Homo sapiens: one gene and its partners. The protein of the gene in region 2 interacts with the protein of the main gene of each other region in a pairwise test. Each region holds a gene or a part of one and is shown on either strand. Other genes may lie near its edges.

The links. The genes of interacting proteins can lie anywhere in the genome.
Region 1: the proteins of AGTR1 (region 2) and JKAMP interact in a two-hybrid assay, tested with the Homo sapiens proteins (one large-scale study listed by BioGRID and IntAct).
Region 3: the proteins of AGTR1 (region 2) and CD37 interact in a two-hybrid assay, tested with the Homo sapiens proteins (one large-scale study listed by BioGRID and IntAct).
Region 4: the proteins of AGTR1 (region 2) and RTN3 interact in a two-hybrid assay, tested with the Homo sapiens proteins (one large-scale study listed by BioGRID and IntAct).

The regions. Positions count from the first base shown.
Region 1 is NC_000014.9:59,498,017-59,501,516, reverse strand, and holds part of JKAMP (JNK1/MAPK8-associated membrane protein), read right to left. Parts: intron 2,791-3,500; coding exon 2,609-2,790; intron 327-2,608; coding exon 250-326; intron 1-249. UniProt on the Homo sapiens protein: Regulates the duration of MAPK8 activity in response to various stress stimuli.
Region 2 is NC_000003.12:148,700,903-148,704,402, reverse strand, and holds part of AGTR1 (type-1 angiotensin II receptor), read right to left. Parts: intron 1-3,500. UniProt on the Homo sapiens protein: Receptor for angiotensin II, a vasoconstricting peptide, which acts as a key regulator of blood pressure and sodium retention by the kidney.
Region 3 is NC_000019.10:49,334,255-49,338,205, forward strand, and holds the start of CD37 (leukocyte antigen CD37), read left to right. Parts: upstream 1-1,151; 5' UTR 1,152-1,286; coding exon 1,287-1,355; intron 1,356-1,459; coding exon 1,460-1,532; intron 1,533-2,654; coding exon 2,655-2,779; intron 2,780-2,892; coding exon 2,893-2,967; intron 2,968-3,670; coding exon 3,671-3,775; intron 3,776-3,951. UniProt on the Homo sapiens protein: Structural component of specialized membrane microdomains known as tetraspanin-enriched microdomains (TERMs), which act as platforms for receptor clustering and signaling.
Region 4 is NC_000011.10:63,712,500-63,715,999, forward strand, and holds part of RTN3 (reticulon-3), read left to right. Parts: intron 1-3,500. UniProt on the Homo sapiens protein: May be involved in membrane trafficking in the early secretory pathway. Inhibits BACE1 activity and amyloid precursor protein processing. May induce caspase-8 cascade and apoptosis.

The DNA.
Region 1 (3,500 bases), on a different chromosome or scaffold from region 2:
TGACATTTCTCCTTCATGCTGGATAGTTGGGCCTGACTACTTCACTATTTTGCTAATTTCCCAGGGAAATATATAGTCCAGTACACAACTTTTCATAAAGTTAACAAGCCAAAAGCTACCAAGTGGCATCAATCAGCCAAAGATTACTAAAACAATTAGTTGTACTATATCATATCATATGGACTATTCTGATATTGAATTGTCAAATTTATCAAAAAGTCTTTAACAAAGGAAAAAAAGACTTCCTACCTCTATTTCAGAAGCAGACATGTACACAGCCAGAGTAACCAAAGATAACACTAATATAATGTATGGGAAGGCGTAATCTGAAAGATAAGCATTGGTATTATGTTGGAAATGAAACAAATTTTCTCAATAAACCATCAAATAAATTCAAATAGTAATTTTCCTTAGAGTCAAATCCTTTCTCAACCAGTTCTGTGAGACTTACAACCTAAGGTTCTGAGGCAGTGGCCAGCAAGCTTTTTCTGGAAAGGGCAAGATAGTAAATAGTTTCAGCCCTGCATTTCTCTGTCTCGATTACCCAGCTCTGCAGTTGTAGTGGGAAAGCAGCCATAGAGAATACATACATGAATGGGCACGGCTGTGTTCCAATAAAAACTTTATGGACAATAAAACATACGTTTCATACTCACATCTAGAAATATAAGTCTTTTGATTTTTTAACCATAAAAAATTGTAAAAACTATCCTTGGGCCAGCTTTGAAGAACCTTGCCTTATTAAGGCATCCAGTGAATGTAAATAATTAACTTCTCTCCTCTGCATTCTAGAATAGTACCAGTTATGTACTAAATTTAGGAGAATTCAAAAAAATGGTCAAATAATTTTCTGTGTTTTGTGGTCAAGGTGGGGAACCGCAGTTGAAAAAGGTTATCTATAAGAGTAACTCAGCTTTAATTAATCTTTAGAAAAGGTCATTTAGCAATAAACCTTAAAGGATAAAGAGATCATTCAGTATTCTTAATATCAAAATTCCTGCAATCTCTACTTTAAATACAGTACAGTAATACTTTAAGCAAATTTTTTCCTCTAAAACACCACTTTTCTCTTAAAATGTTTCAAATTTATAACACACTAAAATAAATGGACAAATTGAGAAAAAAACTTTGAATTTTTTTCATACATTATTTGTAAATGACTTCAGTTTATGAAACTACTTATCATTGCAGTAGAACCCATTTGGAACAATTTCAAATGTTAACTCAGGATTCAGCAGCTAGAAACTGAATTATCTATACAGGCCTGATTCCAACTTACTAAAGAACTGAATGACTTATTTGACATTTATAACTTTTTATTTCATAGACAGTTATTAGGTCCTCAATCAACTTTTCAAAACAAAACAAAACAAAAACTCTACTTAACTTATAAGTAGCTAAACAATGTTGCTAATGATACAAATTTAAGACCTGGTAGTAAAAAGCCATATACAGTAAAAAGGAATAAAGAGGAAGTTTCTAACTAAGCCCAAATTAGTGCAAATCAGTGCAAATGTAATCATGTCACTCTTCTGCCTAAATCCTTTTAAGAACAGGTCCCTATTCCCTAGAGCAAGAATGGCAACCTCAAAAGACAGAGAGGGTAGCCAGGAAGGTATAAGGGAATGGGCCAAATCTAACAGGGAAATAGAGGAGCTAGAGGGAACTATAGATTTTCAAATCCTGTGCAGGCCAAATGAAACAGTTCATCTGTAAACCAGAATATGGCGGATAACAGAATTTCTGGTTCCCTTGGTCTTACCCTCAAGCCCCACCATCACCTTGAACCAAATTACATTCCCAAACTATATTACCAAATTACATTACCAAGCTCCATATAAAGGATGGTGTCCAACATCCTTGGGACGTTCAATGTCACATATTCAAAAGAACCACACTACATTTTCTCAGCCACTGGCTTGCCTACTTTATCTCCTGGTAGTAAGTGAGGTTTTTAACAGTGAATTTGTCTTATTCTTTTGAGTCACAGTTTGGTCTAAATGGTTACTAAACAAATGAATTAATGGTTACATTAAAATAAAAGATATATTGAGGACTTTTTACTATAAAAGGTTTTCATAAATACACTTAGAAACCTAAGACCCTACTTAATAATAAACAGTATACATTATCAAGACTAATTTTCATAAATTCCTAAATAAAAACCAGTTTTTATTTCTTATTACATACTTAGATTTTTAAAATATTTTAATTTCGTCATGAACTTCAAATGCAAAGAGAGGTGGGCAGATCATGAGGTCAGGAGATCGAGATCAATGTGGCCAACATGGTGAAACCCCGTCTCTACTAAAAAAAAATACAAAAATTAGCTGGGTGTGGTGGCACATGCCTGTAGTCCCAGCTACTTGGGAGGCTGAGGCAGGAGAATCAATTGAACCCAGGAGGCGGAGGTTGCAGTGAACCGAGATCATGCCACTGTACTCCAGCCTGGTGATAGAGTGAGATTCCATCACAAAAAAAAAAAAAAAAAAAAAAAAAAAGGATTAAACAAACTATCTTAAGGAAAAATCTCCAAAATTAAATCTAGAGGAAATATTACTACATACAATAATAAATATATTTCATTGACTTTACCCATCAAACTTACATAAAAGGCCTCCACCAACTGCCTGAAGCACGGTTAAAATTGGGAAGAAGTAAAGTGCAGCATAAATACTTTTAAATCGATCAGATTTCCCTAACCCACATGCAATCTTCTTCACCAGAAGAGGTCGGAGCAGCATCATTAATACCAAGCAGAATGCGTAATAGATAAATACAATGGTATATCTGTAAAATAAAATAAAGAATTTGTAACATCAAAAATGTTTTAAAAATGTTTTTAATCTTGATCATTTTTAAATGAAAGAGCCTAAAAGAGGTTTAAAAAGCATATTTACTCTATCCATTGGATATTCAGATTGGTGGAAAGCTGGCCAAACAGGCTGTCATACACGGCTAGCAAGGGTACAATGGTTGCTTTCTTAGGCAGTCTGGAAATATGTACCAAAAATCCTAAAACTGTTTATCCCTTTTGATTCAGCAATTTTACCTGTAGAAATTTATCCAAGGGAAACAACCAGGGATACATAAAAAAACCTACTGTACAAGGATTTTTATTGAATCACTTATAATAAAGCCCAGAAGAAAATAAATATTCAAATGTAAGAAACTGGTTATATTTTATAGTATATTCATGCTGCAATATTATGCAGACATAAAAATCTAGTTATGAAATAAATGTTAACAAAATTAACTGTGCCTAATACATTAAGTGCCAACAACTTACAAGATAGCATGTCATAGTATAGCCTTAATATTCCTTAAAATGCATACACATGCAGAAATAAAACTGGAAAGATAAAATTTGTAGCAGAATCATCTCAAGGAACAGAATTACAGATTATTTTATTCTGTGTGTGCTTTTATTCTGTTTTTGAATGTCCCATTTTTAATGTAATTTTTATAATCAGAAAAAAAAAGCTGTAGAAAGAGCTATG
Region 2 (3,500 bases):
GAGATATCAAAAGTTGTTATTATTATTATTATTATTCGAGACAGGGTCTTTCTCTGTTGCTCAGGCTGGAGTGCAGTGGTGTGATCATGGCTCACTGCAGCCTTCACCTCCCAGACTCAAGCAATCCTCCCAACTCAGTCTCCTGAGTAGTTGGGACTACAGGTCCCAACTACTACATGGTGTGCGCCACCATGCTCTGGCAATTTTTTATTTTTTGTAGAGATGGGGGTCTCAGTTTGTTGCCTCAGCTGGTCTCAAACTCCTGGCCTCAAGTGATCCTCCCAAAGTGCTGGGATTACAGGTCTGAGCCACCATACCTGGGCTCCAAAGTTAATTTTTAAAAGTATGTCATCTACTATTTTTTTAAAAAGCTTTATTGAAGTATAATTGATATACAAAAAGCATGCATATAAAAATATATTTTAGTGGATTTGGACAGGCTGTCATAGTTTTGGTATTTTTTCAAACAGTTAAAGAAGGAATTTCTAGAATTTCCCATTATTGCACTTAAAGGTAAGGTGACAGGAAAACATTAGATCAAAATGGAATAGATCTTGTTTGCTTTTTTTAAAAAAAATTTATGAGGGAAACAGATTTTGATCTCAAATTAAAACTTTAAATAAATTTTCAAATAATTAGTTGGCCTTAAAAAGTAGGTAGCCCAGTATAGAGCAGACACTGTAGGTAACAGCTAAGAGAACAGGCAATGAAATTAGAATTCTTATGTTTACATCTCGACTGTATCAGTTACAGCTTTTGGGTAAACTACTTATCTCATTATTACTTGGTATCCCAATCTATAAAATAAGGATAAAACAGAAACTATCTCACAGGGTTGTTGTGAGGATTAAATAAAAAAAATTTAAAGAAAGACTGAACGTTGTGTTTGGCACATTTATGTACTCAATAAATATTAGCTTTATTAAAAACGTTAGTTAAGAGCCAAGAAAACACCTCTTCATAATTATTCTAAACAAGCCACAGGTACGGTACACTGTGTTTCTTTTCCCTTAATGTGCATTTGAATCACCTGAGGATTTTGCTAAAATGCAGATTCTTATGCAATCAATGGGTCTGGACAGGGTCTGAGATTCTGCAGTTCCAACAAACTCTCAGGTGATACTCATGATGCTAATATGGGAACTGGGATACGTGAGATAATTTTAGATGGTTTCCTCCTAATTTGTAATACAATGTGTCTCAACAGGGGGAATGAGGACAGGGGGAGAAAAGAAGGTGTGGATGAAATGTACAGATTTCATATGCCCCCTGGGTGATTCCAGTATTCTTGTCTCACCTGCCTCTGTCATCTTAAGAACCACCGATTTGATATTTCAACCTTTTATTCTTTTTAATTTTTTCTTTCCTTACTCTTTTCTCCACTTTACCCTTGTCATTGCTGCTGTAGACTGAAAAACTGTATTCATGCTTAGCTCTTCAATTAGCAAGACAAAAGCATCAAATTTGTCATTGTGTGTAATAGGACAGTGTATCTAAATGAGATTAGAAAAATTATTTATTTCTTAACATTTCTTTTTTAAAATATAAAGGTCTGAAAATGTATTTAACATTTTCTGTAGTTTTAGCCAAAAACAAACAAATAAGCAACAAACAGGCAAGCAAGTGACTCCGTGGAACATTTAGTAAAAGAAAACAAGGATGCGTTAGGTGCCATCCATACTGTCAAAGGAGTTATAATCTCACGAGGAGGGGAAAGGAGCAGTGGTTATTACAGAAGTGGCCAGAACCAAACAGTGTGACCACTTTAGACACACCATCTGGTCTGAAAGGCAGGACAGAAGGAGGGGCCATTTTTAAATGGCTTCCCACCCTACTAGCATTAGGCTATTAGAGACCCATGCCAAAATATGTGCTTAGCTTGACTACTATCTCTCTACGGCAAAGACCATTTTTATACTTTGGCTTGTATCCTCAGGGCCTAATATCACTCAGATCCACAGTATTTCCTCTGTAAGTACCTGCAGCTGTTGTTGATATATTTTATAGACATAATTCTTCATTTTCCAAAGTAGATAAGAGGAGCTTTGACTAATATAGAATCAGAAAATATCTAAATAAACTTAGCAAATTAGCAACAACAAATTCTCTTTAAAAGTACAAAATCAGGCCAGGTGAGGTGGCTCATGTCTGTAATCCCAGCACTTTGGGAGGCCGAGGCAGGGAGATCACTTGAGGTCAGAAGTTTGAGACCAGCCTGGCCAACATGGCGAACCTCTTCTCTACTAAAAATACAAAAATTAGCTGGGCGTGGCGGCATGCACCTGTAATCCCAGCTACTAAGGAGGCTGAGGCAGGAAAATCATTTGAACCTGGGAGGCAGAGGTTGCAGTGAGCCGAGATCATGCCACTGCACGCCAGCCTGGGCAACAGAGCAAGACTCTGTCTCAAAAAAAAAAAAAAAAAAGGTACACAATCATATGTGTATTTCTCAATATTCTTATTTTGTACTTAAGCATACAGAGTACTTAAATCCATTGAACTAAATAAAATTTCTACATTATTTGGTGAAGATGAAGGCATCTATGTGTGTATAAGTGGACAAGAAATCACACAAAAGTTGACTTAAACTGAAAGATTATTAATTCTATGATTTTAAGTTTTAAGGAAATCTAGAATTGGGACTTGAAATAGGAAGGCACATTGTAATAATAGGAAACAAGGCACACTCATTTTTTACCCATTTTCCAAACTTTTAAATGTTAAAAAAATTACATGTGAGATTAACAACACAATAAAAACATTCTTGGTAATAGGAAGGAGACTGATAATCACTGAGAGATTCTAGACATTTGTTTCTACTTAAGACAGTTAGAGAATGCACCTATCGAAGAAACAAACACAAACAAAACAAAAACAAATTCAAACCCTTCTAAATTAACTATAAGAATAATGTAATCATACAGCATTTATACTACATAATGAATTTTTTGTTACTTAAATATTTTGGAAGACAATTTTGATTTTCATATGCAAGAAAGTTTTTCCTCATCTGAGCATCTGCTTTGATAAGAAGAAAAATCCCATAGCAAATATTTTAATGTTAATACAACCACAGCTAGCAGCAATAGTCACTAGTCCTTTTATGACTGTTCCAAACATATACTCTGTTTTCTATTTCCAGTTGTCTAATTTGTCACTAACGTAATAACTAGGGAAACATCTGGCAATTTATAGTTCTTTAAATTATAAGATTTTTTTTCTGTGATTGAAATATTGCATTTTAGAGCTTTAATAGGATAATGGTAGTCACTTGCCAATTTAGTTGAATATTACCTTAAGTCCCTATAGATATTCCTTGATTTAAGATGGCTTTATATATTAAGCTATTAAAAAGTTGATTTTTAGAAGCTAAAGTTCATATTATGAATAAAACAAAATGTAAAGTGATAGCTAAATTTAGGATACAAATCGATCAAATTTACTGTTGCTTATCAGAGATTGAGTATACTGCTTTAACAAGCAGCTACAGTGAAAAGAAA
Region 3 (3,951 bases), on a different chromosome or scaffold from region 2:
AGGAGGATCACTTGAGCCCAGAAATTTGAGACCAGCCTAGGCAACACAGTGAGACTCCCATCTCTACAAAAAATGAAGAAAATTAGCCAGGCATGGTGGTGTGCACCTGTAGTCCCAGCTACTTGGGAGGCTGAGGTGCAAGGATTGCTCGAGCCTGGGAAGGTTGGGGCTGCAGTGAGCTATGATCGCACTACTGCATTCCAGCCTGGGCGACCCTGTCTCAAAAACAAAAACAAAAGAGAGATGAAGAGAGAAAGGAGGAAGGACCCAAAGAAGGGGCCAGAAGCAGAGAGAGGCCAGGCACAGTGGCTCACGCCTGTAATCCCAACACTTTGGGAGGCCAAGGCAGGAGGGTCGCTTGAGTCCAGGAGTTCCAGACCAGCCTGGGCAACCTAGTGAGACCCTATCTCTGTTTTTTTTTAATTAAATATAAAAAATACAACACTCCCACTCCATAGCAAGACCCCATTTCTACAAAAAATACAAAAATTAGCCAGGCATGGTAGTGTGCACCTGTAATCCCAGCTACTCAGAAGGCAGAGGTGGGAGGATAGCTTGAGCCCAGGCTACAGTGAGCTGTTTTCCCCACCGTACTCCAGCCTGGGTGAAAAGTGAGACCCTGTCTCAAAAAGAAACAAATATATAAATAAAATAAAGAAACACAGAGAGAGGGAGGATAGAGACCCCAGGAGGCAGGAGGACAGAGACCCAGAGGAGGGAGAGACTCTGCTGAGATAAGGGGACAGAGATGGGGAGTAGCAGGAAGGTGGGGACAAAGACCCAGAGAGGAGGAACAAGAGACCCAGGGCAGGAAATGGGAGACACAGCTGGATGCAGAGATGGGAGAGCTTAGCAGGCCATGAGGTCAGAGTGTCTGTGAGGTCAGCTGCTGTCCAGGGTCAGCCCTGAGGTCCCCATGCCCAGAGGTGGGTTCCAGTAGATCAGGGGTCCCTTTAGATCCCCCAGCGCCTGAGACATGGAGACCTGGGAGGGACTGCCCCATGAGTCCTTGGTGCCCACAAATTCCAAGGCCCCTCAGGTACCAGAGCATGTGTCCCAGTGGAGCAGGTGAGGGAGACAGGGACAGAGAGAGAGACAGAAAGCCACCTTACATGAAGCGGGAGTGGGTGGAGCCCCACCCCTGGAACTTCCTCTTTTGGGGTTCTTCCTTTCTCTCTCAGCTCTCCGTCTCTCTTTCTCTCTCAGCCTCTTTCTTTCTCCCTGTCTCCCCCACTGTCAGCACCTCTTCTGTGTGGTGAGTGGACCGCTTACCCCACTAGGTGAAGATGTCAGCCCAGGAGAGCTGCCTCAGCCTCATCAAGTACTTCCTCTTCGTTTTCAACCTCTTCTTCTTCGTGAGTTGCCTCATGGCTACCCAGCCGGGGCCCAGCCCCTGCCGCTAACCCAGCCCTCATCTTCCCCTGTGGCCCACCCCCGTATCCGCATCTCCTCTCCCCAGGTCCTCGGCAGCCTGATCTTCTGCTTCGGCATCTGGATCCTCATTGACAAGACCAGCTTCGTGTCCTTTGTGGGTGAGGGGGGCTGGGGCAGGTGGGAGGGCCTCCCCCAACCCAAGCAACTTCCTGGGGTCTCCCTTGTCTCAGGGAGACCTACGGTGCCCTACTCTGCAGGCAGGCTACAGGCTCCCATCCACTGCTCACCGGAGGCTTCTTGGAGCCTGAGTCTTCTTCCGGCAAATGGGGTTGTGCATACAAACAACAATGATCATGAGAGCCATTTCTCAAGCACTTCCTATCTGTCGGGACTTGTGGCTGGTCAGATGCCCCCACAAACCTTCCCCTCGCTTGAGGTTCAGAGAGGGGAAGCCCCTTGATGGATGTCATACAGCAAGGACGTAAAAGAGCCAAAATAACATTAATAATAGGAAAATAATAATGAAGTATGACCCTAAATAATAATGAAATATAACCCTAAACGCTCATATTTAAGAAGTCTTTGCCCTGTGTTGAGGACTGGGTTGAACACATGTCCTCATGTGTCTCTCAAAATGACCCTAGGGGCCGGGCGCGGTGGCTCACACCTGTAATTCCAGCACTTTGGGAAGCCGAGGCAGGTGGATCACTTGAGGTCAGGAGTTCGAGAATAGCCTGGCCAACATGGTGAAACCCTGTCTCTACTCAAAAATACAAAACGTTAGCCAGGCATGGTGGCACATGCCTGTAGTCGCAGCTACTAGGGAGGCTGAGGCAGGAGAATCACTTGAACCTGGGAGGCAGAGGTTGCAGTGAGCCGAGATCACATCACTGCACTCCAGCCTGGGGGACAGAGCGAGGCTCCAACTCAAAAAAAAACCCTAAGAAATAGATATCATCTCCTATGCCTCAGGGAGGTTTAAGGAGCCAAGCCAATGTCACAGAACAAGTGATAGGGCTGAAACTACTGGGGACGAGGAGGAGCTGAAGGAGGAAGGAGAGGGTAAGAGGAAGAGAGACAGAGATCCAGGGACGGGAAACAGGCCCAGAAAGAAGAGAAAGTTTCAGAAGGAAACAGGGACTCAGGGTGGGGCAGGGACAGAGTCCCAGAGAGAGGGGCACCAAGATACTGCTCCCCACTTGGGTGGCTGCCTAGGTGGGAAATGGGGCTGCCTGGAGCTGTGCCACACAGCTCATCATCACTCCCCTCACCTCTCCCAGGCTTGGCCTTCGTGCCTCTGCAGATCTGGTCCAAAGTCCTGGCCATCTCAGGAATCTTCACCATGGGCATCGCCCTCCTGGGTTGTGTGGGGGCCCTCAAGGAGCTCCGCTGCCTCCTGGGCCTGGTGAGTGCACCATCCCTCTCCGTCCCTAGGAACACTCCTATCCCCACCCTCAAAAATGGCCTGGGCCGGGGTTGCAGGGGTGGTCAGCCTGATCTCTCCACTCTGCTCCCCAGTATTTTGGGATGCTGCTGCTCCTGTTTGCCACACAGATCACCCTGGGAATCCTCATCTCCACTCAGCGGGCCCAGGTGAGCTTCCTGCAGTGGCCACCACCCACCCCCAGCAGGGAGGAGAGGGAAGGGAGTGGTGGGAGAGGGTGGAGAGAGACCGAAACAAGGGCAGACAGGGGCTAACCTAGATAAAGAGAAATAAGAGGCTGGGCCTGGTGGCTCACGCCTGTAATCCCATAATCCCAGCACTTTGGGAGGCTGAGGTGGGAGTCCAGGAGTTTGAGACCAGCCTGGGCAACATAGTGAGACCCCATCTATATTTAAAAAAAAAATCCGGGTGTGATGGTGTGCACCTGGGGTCCCAGCTACTTGGGAGGTCGAGGTGGGAGGATCACTTGAGCCAGGGAGTTTGAGGCTACAGTGAGCCATGCACTCAGCCTGGGTGACAGAGTGAGACCCTGTCTCAAAAAATAAATTAATAGAAAGACACACCGACCTGGACCAAGGGAGACAGGCATAAACAGCTCCAAAGGGAAACACACGGGAAAAAGAGAGAACAAGAGAAAGAAATAGACGCCCTGAAAGAAGAGACAGAGACTTATGAGCCGTAGAAATAGTGGAAGAAACAGAAAGACAGACCTGAAGTACACAGAGCTAGCCATTCAGTAAGGATTTGAGACTGGCCCAGAGATGCACAGGGCCCGCCTGAGGCTGGCACAGCCTGAGAGGGGGAGGGGTGGGGCGGGGAAGATAAGGCCCAGCCTCACTGGTGGCCTCTCAGCTGGAGCGAAGCTTGCGGGACGTCGTAGAGAAAACCATCCAAAAGTACGGCACCAACCCCGAGGAGACCGCGGCCGAGGAGAGCTGGGACTATGTGCAGTTCCAGGTAAGCCCCCCTCCTCCAGTTCCCTCCCGGACTGACCCGCCTCAGCCCTGTGCTTGGAGGAGACTCCACCCCAACGTGGGCCCGACCCCCAGCTCTACGATCCTAACACACCCCAATCCCTCCCAGGCCCGACGCTCCCCACTCCCCAGATGACACAACTGTCCCCGGCGTCGCCT
Region 4 (3,500 bases), on a different chromosome or scaffold from region 2:
TTTTGAGATGGAGTCTCACATTGTTGCCTGGGCTAGAGTGCAGTGGTGTGATCTTGGCTCACCGCAATTTCCACCTCCTGGGTTCAAGCGATTCTCCTGCCTCAGTCTCCCGAGTAGCTGGGATTATAGGCATGCGCCACCACACTCGGCTAATTTTTTTGTATTTTTAGTAGAGATGGGGTTCTCCATGTTGATCCGGCTGGTCTTGAACTCCTGACCTCGTGATCAGGACCAGCTCGGCCCCCAAAGTGCTGGGATTACAGGCGTGAGCCACCGTGCCTGGCCGACTTCGAATTTTTTAATAAGAATTTTTTGGCCGGGCGCAATGGCTCACACTTGTAATCCCAGCACTTGGAGAGGCCGAGGCAGGCGAATCACCTGAGGTTGGGAGTTCCAGACCAGCCTAACCAACGTGGAGAAACTCCGTCTCTACTAAAAATACAAAATTAGCTAGGCCTGGTGGCGCATGCCTGTAATCCCAGCTACTCCGGAGGCTGAGGCAGGAGAATCGCTTGAACCCAGGAGGCAGAGGTTGCGGTGAGCCAAGGTCACACCATTGCACTCCAGCCTGGGCAAAAAGAGTGAAATTCCATCTCTCAAAAATATAAAAGAATTTTTTATTTGGGTCTAAAAATTTAGAATTTAGAATATGACTACCAACTTAATTTCTTAGTCTTTGTTTCAGATAATATATCTCAGTGGAGTATTTAGAGTTTAAGAAGATGAGTAATCATGGAGCTGAGTACTTGATAAGTTTGAGAACATGTTCATGATCATTGTGGGGATATGACATTTTTTACCTCTTACCATATATCGATTCTCACCCACCCCCCATTTTTTGAAACAAGGTCTTGCTTTGTCACCCAGGGTGGAGTGCATGGCTCACTGCAGCCTCGACCTCCTGGGCTCAAGCAGTCCTCCCACTTCAGCCTCCCAAGTAGTCAGGACCACAGGTGTATGCCACCATGACTGGCTAATTGTTTAATTTTTTTGTAGAGATGGGGTCGCACTGTGTTGCCCAGGCTGGTCTCGAACTCCTGGGCTCAAGCTGTCTCCCTGCCTTGGCTTCTCAAAGTGCTAGGATTACAGGCATGAGCCACCACACTCAGCTGATTCCCTTTTTAGTAAATCTACTAGATCTATGACTTTATTTGTTAATAATTAGAGTAGCACCATGTTTTTAAGTGATTAGAACTCTTGAAAATGAATATCCACACTAAATTCCATTATAGCAAAGAACTAATTTAGAAAATGTTCATAATGAGAGTTTTGATGGCGATTTGTTTTGAGTAGTGTTGAAAGGCTCTTAGAGTGCATGTGAAGGGATGAATCTTTTGAGAAAAGAAAGATAGTAGACATTTTCTGAGACATAAAATAATCCAGATTTATTCCACCAGACAGCTTTACAGTGTATAGTATTTTAAGAGCTAACTGCCTTCAGATTCACTGGACTTTTCTGTCCTTTTGCCAGGTACTGACTTGGGCAACAGCAGTGACTACAAGTGCCATACTGACCAATTGGAAGAGTCTTTGCTTATCGGAGCTGTTCTAAAAGGCTTATTAGTTTTTGGTCTTCATTCTATTTAATGTTTTCATGCCTTTATAAACTTTTTACTTCCAGCCCAATTTTTCCCATTGTCTTGGTACAGGTCAGCTGTGTCCAAGTTTGTTAGGGTTTCAGCTAGCCAAAAATGGTATTTTCATTTGCTGAAATTCTAAACAAAATAATTAAAGTTAAAGCACAGATGATGATGCTACCTTATTTTTCTACATGTGGGAAAGCTTGATTGATAGTAATGATTAGCGCCTGCATCTCACAATCACTGAGAAATGAATGCAGCACTGAGCTCTGTTTGCCCTCTAAGCTTGTCCCCAGAAAAAACAAGATATACCCTAAATAGTAAGTTATAATATTTTTATTAGGGAACATTATTAGAGTTTTTTTTTAATATATCTCGTAGCCATGTCATATTAATCTTTTTTCTTTTTTCCTTTTTTTCATTTTTCTCTTTTCTCTTCTCTTCTCTTCTCTTTTCTCTTTCTCACTCTGTCACCCAAGCTGGAGTGCAGTGGCATGACCATGGCTCACTGCAGCCTTGACCTCCCAGACTCAAGCAATCCTCCCACTCCAGCCTCCCAAGTGACTGGGACTACAGGCACGTGCCACCATGCACGGCTAATTTTTCTATTTTTTGTAGGGGCAGGATCTCAGCATGTTGCCCAGGCTGATCTTGACCTCTTGGACTCAAGCAATTTTCCCTCCTGTGCCTCCCAAAGTTCTAAGATACAGGCATGAGCCACCACACCCAGCCTAGAGAATCCTTAATGTTTGAAGTCTGTCAGGCTATCATGGTGCTCAGCAGAGGATGTGTTAGTATTCTGAGAATAGGACTTCTAACTTTAGTTTTACCTGAGATTATTCTACACCTAACTTGAAACTTTTGGAGTATTAAAGGTTCAAAGAAGTTAAGAGAAAAGCAAAGCTTGATAAACTGACCAGTTTGTGTCCTGCTAAAGCATAGACAGTTTTACCATGCTCTTCCCAGTGACATGAATATTCTTTGGTTAGCATTCAATTTGGTTGCTTTCTTTTTTGTTTAATCAGGCACTGTCACCACTGTATTATTGTCATCATTTTGCTTATTGATTTTGCTTATTGTCTGCCTTCCCCTCTGTGTTGTAAGCTCCATAAAGGCAAGAAATTTTTTCTGTTTTATTCACTGCTTTAAGCCCAGTTTCTAAAACAGTGTCTGACACGTGGTAGGCACTCAATAAATACCTGTTGAATTATTACTAATTCATTTTGTAGACTTTCATCTGTAAGATGACAGATCTGAATCATCTGAAATCTCCATCTCCATAAAACATATAAGCTGGCTGGGTGCAGTGGCTCATGCCTGTAATCCTAGTACTTTGTGAGGCTGAGGCGAGCAGATTGCTTGAGCTCAGGAGTTCGAGACCAGCCTGCGCAACGTGGTGAAACCAGCTCTCTACTAAAAATACAAAAAATTAGCCAGGTGCGGTGGTGCACGCCTGTAATCCCAGCTACTTCGGAGGCTGAGTCAGGAAAATCGCTTCAATCTGGGGGGCGGAGGTTGCAGTGAGCCGAGATTGCACCACTGCACTCCAGCCTGGGCAACAGAACTAGACTCTGTCTAAAAAAAACACACAAAAAACACACAAAAAAACATATAAGCTGAACCTCCCCTGTGGGGTGGAGTCAGTTTGACTCACCTCAGAGTTGTTTGAAGAGAGAGGTTCCCAAACAGTTTTACCATAACCTTAGTTCACTGAATGTTTTGTGGTAGAAACACTGACTAGTAAGTTCAGTAACAATGCATGGCTCAGATTGTGGAATATTTCTGATTTAAATGTAATCTGTAGTACTTCACACTTCAGATTTTTGAACCTTTTAACCTACAATACTGGGCTTCATTTCTGTTATGCCCTAATCTAGTCATGCTGAATATCCATACTGTATAATGGTAGATGCAAACCAT